Regions from separate parts of the Homo sapiens genome. Here region 2 is linked to region 1. A link means that fine-mapping ties the variant in region 1 to the plasma level of a protein whose gene starts in the linked region. Region 1 holds a variant in brackets. A gene starts in the other region. All regions are shown on their forward strands.

The links. PIP is the chance, under the fine-mapping model, that this variant and not a neighbour inherited with it causes the effect. Protein levels are from antibody-based Olink assays in UK Biobank. Linkage for the fine-mapping came from a reference panel and not from the study's own genotypes, which makes the PIPs less certain.
Region 2: FCRL1 starts here. The variant in region 1 is fine-mapped to the plasma level of the FCRL1 protein (UK Biobank, PIP 0.97).

The regions. Positions count from the first base shown.
Region 1 is chr10:96,618,543-96,621,566 of GRCh38, forward strand. PIK3AP1 (phosphoinositide-3-kinase adaptor protein 1) reads right to left here. Exons shown (of 17, transcript NM_152309.3): 12 at 1,810-2,015. It also overlaps the pseudogene RNA5SP324 and the pseudogene RPS2P36. Among named protein-coding and RNA genes, the nearest start is that of TM9SF3, 33 kb to the left of the region's middle. The variant T/C (reference allele first, on the strand shown) is at 1,838.
Region 2 is chr1:157,818,864-157,821,363 of GRCh38, forward strand. It overlaps FCRL1 (Fc receptor like 1), which reads right to left and starts at 1,257. Exons shown (of 11, transcript NM_052938.5): 1 at 1,144-1,257. The coding sequence starts at 1,174.

The DNA.
Region 1 (3,024 bases):
CAGATTATACCTCATATTAGCAATTACCTTACACTACAAGAAAATGTAAAAAAAAAAAAAAAGAAAAAAAGAAAGAGAGCTAACATTTATTATGTATTTACTACGTACCAGTTATGCTGCTTACAGTAGCTTATATCACCTAGTCCTCCCCTTTCATATGAGGCACAGCAAGGTCAAGGTCATCAAATAGCAGAATAAAGATGTAAATTCAGGCTGCCAGCTCTAGAGCCCTGGCTGTTCTTAACTACTGTGCCACGTGGTTGCACAACTTGGCAAGGAGCAAAAAAACATTGTTTAGCCAGGGCCAGCCTTTTCTCAGCAGGACTGCAGCCTCCCAGGGGCTCCTGAGTGAAAAGCACCCGTGATTCCTGCATTCAGCTCTCCAGAGTGCCCTCCCACCCTTCAGGCCCCAAAAGGGAGGGAGGCAGCTGGCAGAGCAGGTGCCCCTGTCTTAAGGAGCACTAAAAAGGCAGAAGGCATAGTGAAGGGAGCACAGGCTCTGGGGTGAGAAAGGGGAGGTTTGAACCTTGACTGCCTCTTCGCCTCTCTGAGCCTCAGTTTTCTGTAGAACAGGAGGAGTAATACTTATTTCATATGCGTGTATGAGGAGTGAAAGAGATCAGGTCTATTTAACGCTGAGCACAATGCCTAACATAGCACTGTCGGAGGTCAGCAAATGCGGCCTGATGACATGCTTCCCCACTCTTCACCACTAATCCTGTCCCAGAAGACAGGCTCCTATCTCAGCCCTGGACGGGTGCTGCTTACTCCCCGCCTTGACAGCTGGTATGTCAGATAGCGTAAGAACAGAGATTAGAATACACACCACCAGGGTCTATAGCCATAACACCCTGAACGCGCCCAATCCCATCTGATCTCTGAGGGTAAGCAGGGTCGGGCCTGGCTAGTACTTTGAAGGAAGCAGCCTGGGGAGGTGGAGAGAGAAAGCAATAGTTCCAGTCCTGACTCGGCCCCTCACTAGGAAAGATGCCTTGGACGTGTCCCTTAACCTCCTGAGCCCCATTTCCTCCTTTTTAATACAAAGGCATTGGTGGACTAAGAATGAGCTTCCTAAGGTTAAGTTTGAGTTCTTTTTTTGTTTTTAATTATACATCATGTACACTTATGATACAGGTATGGAGTTATATATTCTCATAAAAGCTTCAAACTATACAGGTAGAGCAAGAGTCTCCTCTGACACCCCAGTCCTCCAATCCCAGTCTTCTCCTGAGAGGTGGCCCCTGGAATGGGCCCGAAGTGGCCGTTTCCAGATCTTTGTCCTTGCATTTATATACATGTCCATAGAAATACAGAGTTTGTGTGTGGACGTGTCTGAGTTGTTTTAATTTGGGTGGTTTTGTATCTGCAACTTGTTTTGTTCATTTAATCATATTTCTTGGGAGTTTTCCAAGTTCTCTTTGAGTCATAAAGTGTGATAGTTATGAGGGTATTTGGCAGTAGGAATAGAGAGAGAGAGACTCTGAAAAGAAAAAAGCTGGAAAGCAGAAGCAGGGAGCCAAATGCAGAGAGACACAGCAGCAGAGTTAGTGTTTGTAGTTGAGTCTTTGTTCCTGATCTCAAGCCTCATGGTACCTGGAAAAGCTACCCAGCTCTCAGCCAGGGAGCCATGTGGTTACAGACCGAGGTGACACTCATACACACTCACTGGTTCACAATGAAACTCAAACATTCGCAGGCACAGCCACAGGTGTCCAGGTACAGCAATACACAAGACAGCCATGGCCCAGCCCTCCTCTACTGTCAAGTGGGGAAATAGACATGAAACAAATTCCATACGAAGCTAGTTACCTGCTGGAAACGAAAGGACTCCGATCGT[T/C]TCTTCTGGTTGAGCTGCCACTCTTTGAAGTGGAGCACAGCCTCATCCACGTTGACAATGCCCAGCTTCACCTGCTCCTGGAGGGTGATAAGCTGCCGCTGGCCTGGCGTTTTCATTCCCGCAAAAGGGTCATATATACTCGACTGGGGCCTGTCCCTCCATGGTCTGACGGGCGGCCCTGGAAAGGATGGCAAAACTCAGCTTGACAGCTCCCCCACTGGGGACCACTCACCAGAAGTGTACGGTTAATGAGGCTGGTCACAGGCTCAAGAGGACTCTTCTCAAAAGAACAATTACATGTGGCCAAGAAGGGGGAGATACAACATAAAATCAGGGGAGAAGAATGCAGCTAATAATTCCAAGGCCTATCACACTGAAGTAGACAAGGCTGCAACATTTAAGGGAGGCGTGAAATCTGCTGACTCTCCCAAGTCTTAACTATTATTATTATTTTTAACAGGCTTCATTCATTTCATTTTTCTGGTAAGAAAACCGTACGTTGTAGCCACAGCTGGAACCTGCGTCTTCTGCTTAGAGACTCTGGTGTGGGTCTTGAGAGATGGTCAGTGAATTCCTGGTAGGGAAACTTGGTGAATACAGTCTCTTTCCAGAGGTCAGGGATCCAGTTGCTAGCAGTCTTAGAGATGGCATCAAAGGTGGCCCAGGGTGGCAGTGCGGTCCCTGGCCAAGGCGTAGCAGCCATCAGCAGCAGCTTCTTGGGCACAGAGGCCAAGATGATGCTTAGTGCCCCTGGGGGCAGGGATGAGGCACACACACCAGCACAGAGCCAGTGGCCTGTCACGTTGCAAAGGCTGGTGTGGGGCTTGCTGATCTTGTTCCCCCTGTAGCCTCTCTGTGCGGGTCCAATGGAGAGCTTGGCTGGGATGATGGCCCGTTGGATGGTAGTGGCTACCCCCTTGGAGTGCTTAATACCCAGACAACATGGCCATTGTAGTCCTCAAAGGCAACAAACACCTTGAACCTGGTGAAATGGCCAGCATGGGTCAACTTCTGTGCCAGCATAATCTTCAGAACCCCATTCTTGAGAGACGACTCCAGGAAAAGGTCAATGATCTCAGACACCTTGATGGGCAGAGAGAAGACAGCTCTCCCAGGACTTGATCTTCACATCTTTGGCCAGATGGTTTAACTTAGTGATAGGCGTCGACTCCTTGTTCTCAGACTTA
Region 2 (2,500 bases), not on the chromosome of region 1:
GTTTGTATACTTATGGGAATAATTTAGAATGAAGAAACATATTGATGATGGAGCAAACTTTTTGAGAAAGTAAGAGGGTCATGGGCCTAATGCACAAGTGGAGAGTCTTGTCATCAACAAGATGAGGGGCAATATATTCGTGGTAGGGGAAGAGAAGGCAGTGTATGTGAATGCAGAGGTGAGTAGGTCAACAGCAACAGAAAGATGAGAGAGTTTTCTTCTGACTGCTTTTATTTTCTCAATGAAATATGAAGCAAGATTACACAATGAGAGTGAACAGAGAAGTATGAGGTGACAGGATAAGGTATGCAATAGTGATAATGGAGCAACATGGACTGTGAACATGTAGGATAATTGCCTGGCATTGCTGTTGGCTACCTGAGATTTGGGGGTCCTACACTTAAAAGGGGATAAGTCATCAGGGTTGTGCATTTAAAAAAAAATCCCATTCAGCTGTTTATGTCCAGGAGTGAAGCATGCAGAAGGGCGTGTAAACCAGGAGAGTGCTATGGGGGAAGAGAGATGAAGGTGTGCTCGAGGGAGTGTTGTGGTGGTGAGCTGCAGAATCTGAGCTGAGCACCATGAGAAGTGAGCACATGAAGTGTAGTTACTGATAATGGAAAAGTAGCCCTGGGGTAATTGAAGTCATGTTGGAAATAGAGTGCAGGAGAAAGTGAGCTAGAAACACAACTTAGTGGGGGTGGGGGATGTATGCTGAAAACAAAGGAGTGATGATAAGTTCTAAGGTTTGACTGTGGGAATGGGGAGTCAGAGAGGGATAAAAGGAAATAACGTTGGTAGTAAGAAGGGCAAGGAATTCAGAGGCCTATTTATTATACAGATTTTTCTTTTGGCAGCTGTTGAAAACACTGAGAACAAAGACAATTATTGATGGAAAGGAAGACAGACAGTGAACACTTCCTATGAGATAAAAACTGAAATGATAGTTTTCTTGAAAACTCTGGCTTTTTGAAATATCTACAACTTTTTGCCTGACTCTGAGCCCTCCGTGGAAGTGGAGATCTGAGCACCCCTGAGCATTACCTGACAGAACCTTAGTCCTAAGAAGTCCTTACAGCCCTTCAGGAAGCAGAGCCCAAGCATGATTGCATCCCATGCCCTGCTCTGAGTTGCCCAACTCACCACAGATCAACAGCAACAGCCTCGGCAGCATGAGGACCAGGTCAGGGATGGTACCTAGAGATGCCTCTCATCAAAAAAAGAATGCACCTCAGAGTCGAGCAGCAGCAGCTCATCAGAGGTTTGAGGAAGTTGATATCGGAAGTTACCCTTCAGCAGAAGTAGAAGGAAGAAGAACCCTCTAGTGACCAGTCTCCATTTCCTTTTCTATGAAGTCTGAGAAAATTAAAGATGCTCCTTTTTAAATATAGTTTGATTCAGTTCCACAAGCTGCAGATAGTACACATCAATATTTGAGGGACTTTTTCAAGAATTCAGGTATTTCAAAGGAAGTTTTCTAAAGGCAGTTTCCTACTTTGATGAGTCTCATCAGGTTATGGTCCTGCTGAAATTCATCTTTGATACATCTACAATACTTTTCACCTTTGATAGGGATGTCTCCTGGATTGTTTCTAATTGGCACATTCTTCTTGCTCAGCAATATAGTCCCACTATGCAAACTTTCTCTAGTATAGTCATATTATGCAAACATGTCATTAAATCAGGGACTGATGGGGCTGTCACCCCGGTTATGTGTAGTGTCTGACCCTTGCTGCATATGATGACTTATGTACAGGGTCAACCTATTCATACAGATATACGCTTTGATATTCAAACTTTCAGTGTACCAGTAAATGAGCATGAAATCACTGAAAAATAAAATCACGGCAAATTACAATCTGGGGGATATTTGAAAATGAAATACAGAAAAGAAGTATATGCAAATTAGCTTCAGGGCACTTGAGAAGGGTTCACCATTAGTACTAACTCTGGCATTTGTAAAATTGCCCCTCTTTTCCCTCAAAATCAGGGCACCTATAATCTCTCCCATTGCTACCTTTAGCACATTAGGGATACCAGTTCTAGGCAAGTGAAGCCTAGATTAGGGATTGGAGGAGAATAAGCTATCTTAATTTTCAACATTTCTTAAATCCGTGAGTGTCTAGGATTAAGAATAACTAGAATGTGTGGAAAGTAACCTATTAGGGGAAAGATGCTGTCAGGCAATGATGTCTAAGTCCAGGTATCCAGCTCAATGAGTATGACTGAGAAAAGAAACTATTCAGTGATACGCAAAACCAGAGGGAAAAGGGAGCAATGTTGGTAACCAGGCTAACAGCGAAAGTGCTGAAAACGAATAGGTATTCCATAGCTTTATTTATTGGCTTAGGAAAGCCTGTGTGGGGATAAGCTTGTTTAGTGTAAAGTTTCAGGACCAATGCAAAAAAATCTCCTGAATGAGAATGTAGAGCCCTTTAAATCCAGGGTGTAAAGCTGTTTTTGCATACACTCTGCTGTTTCATCTCTCTCTTTTTCTTTT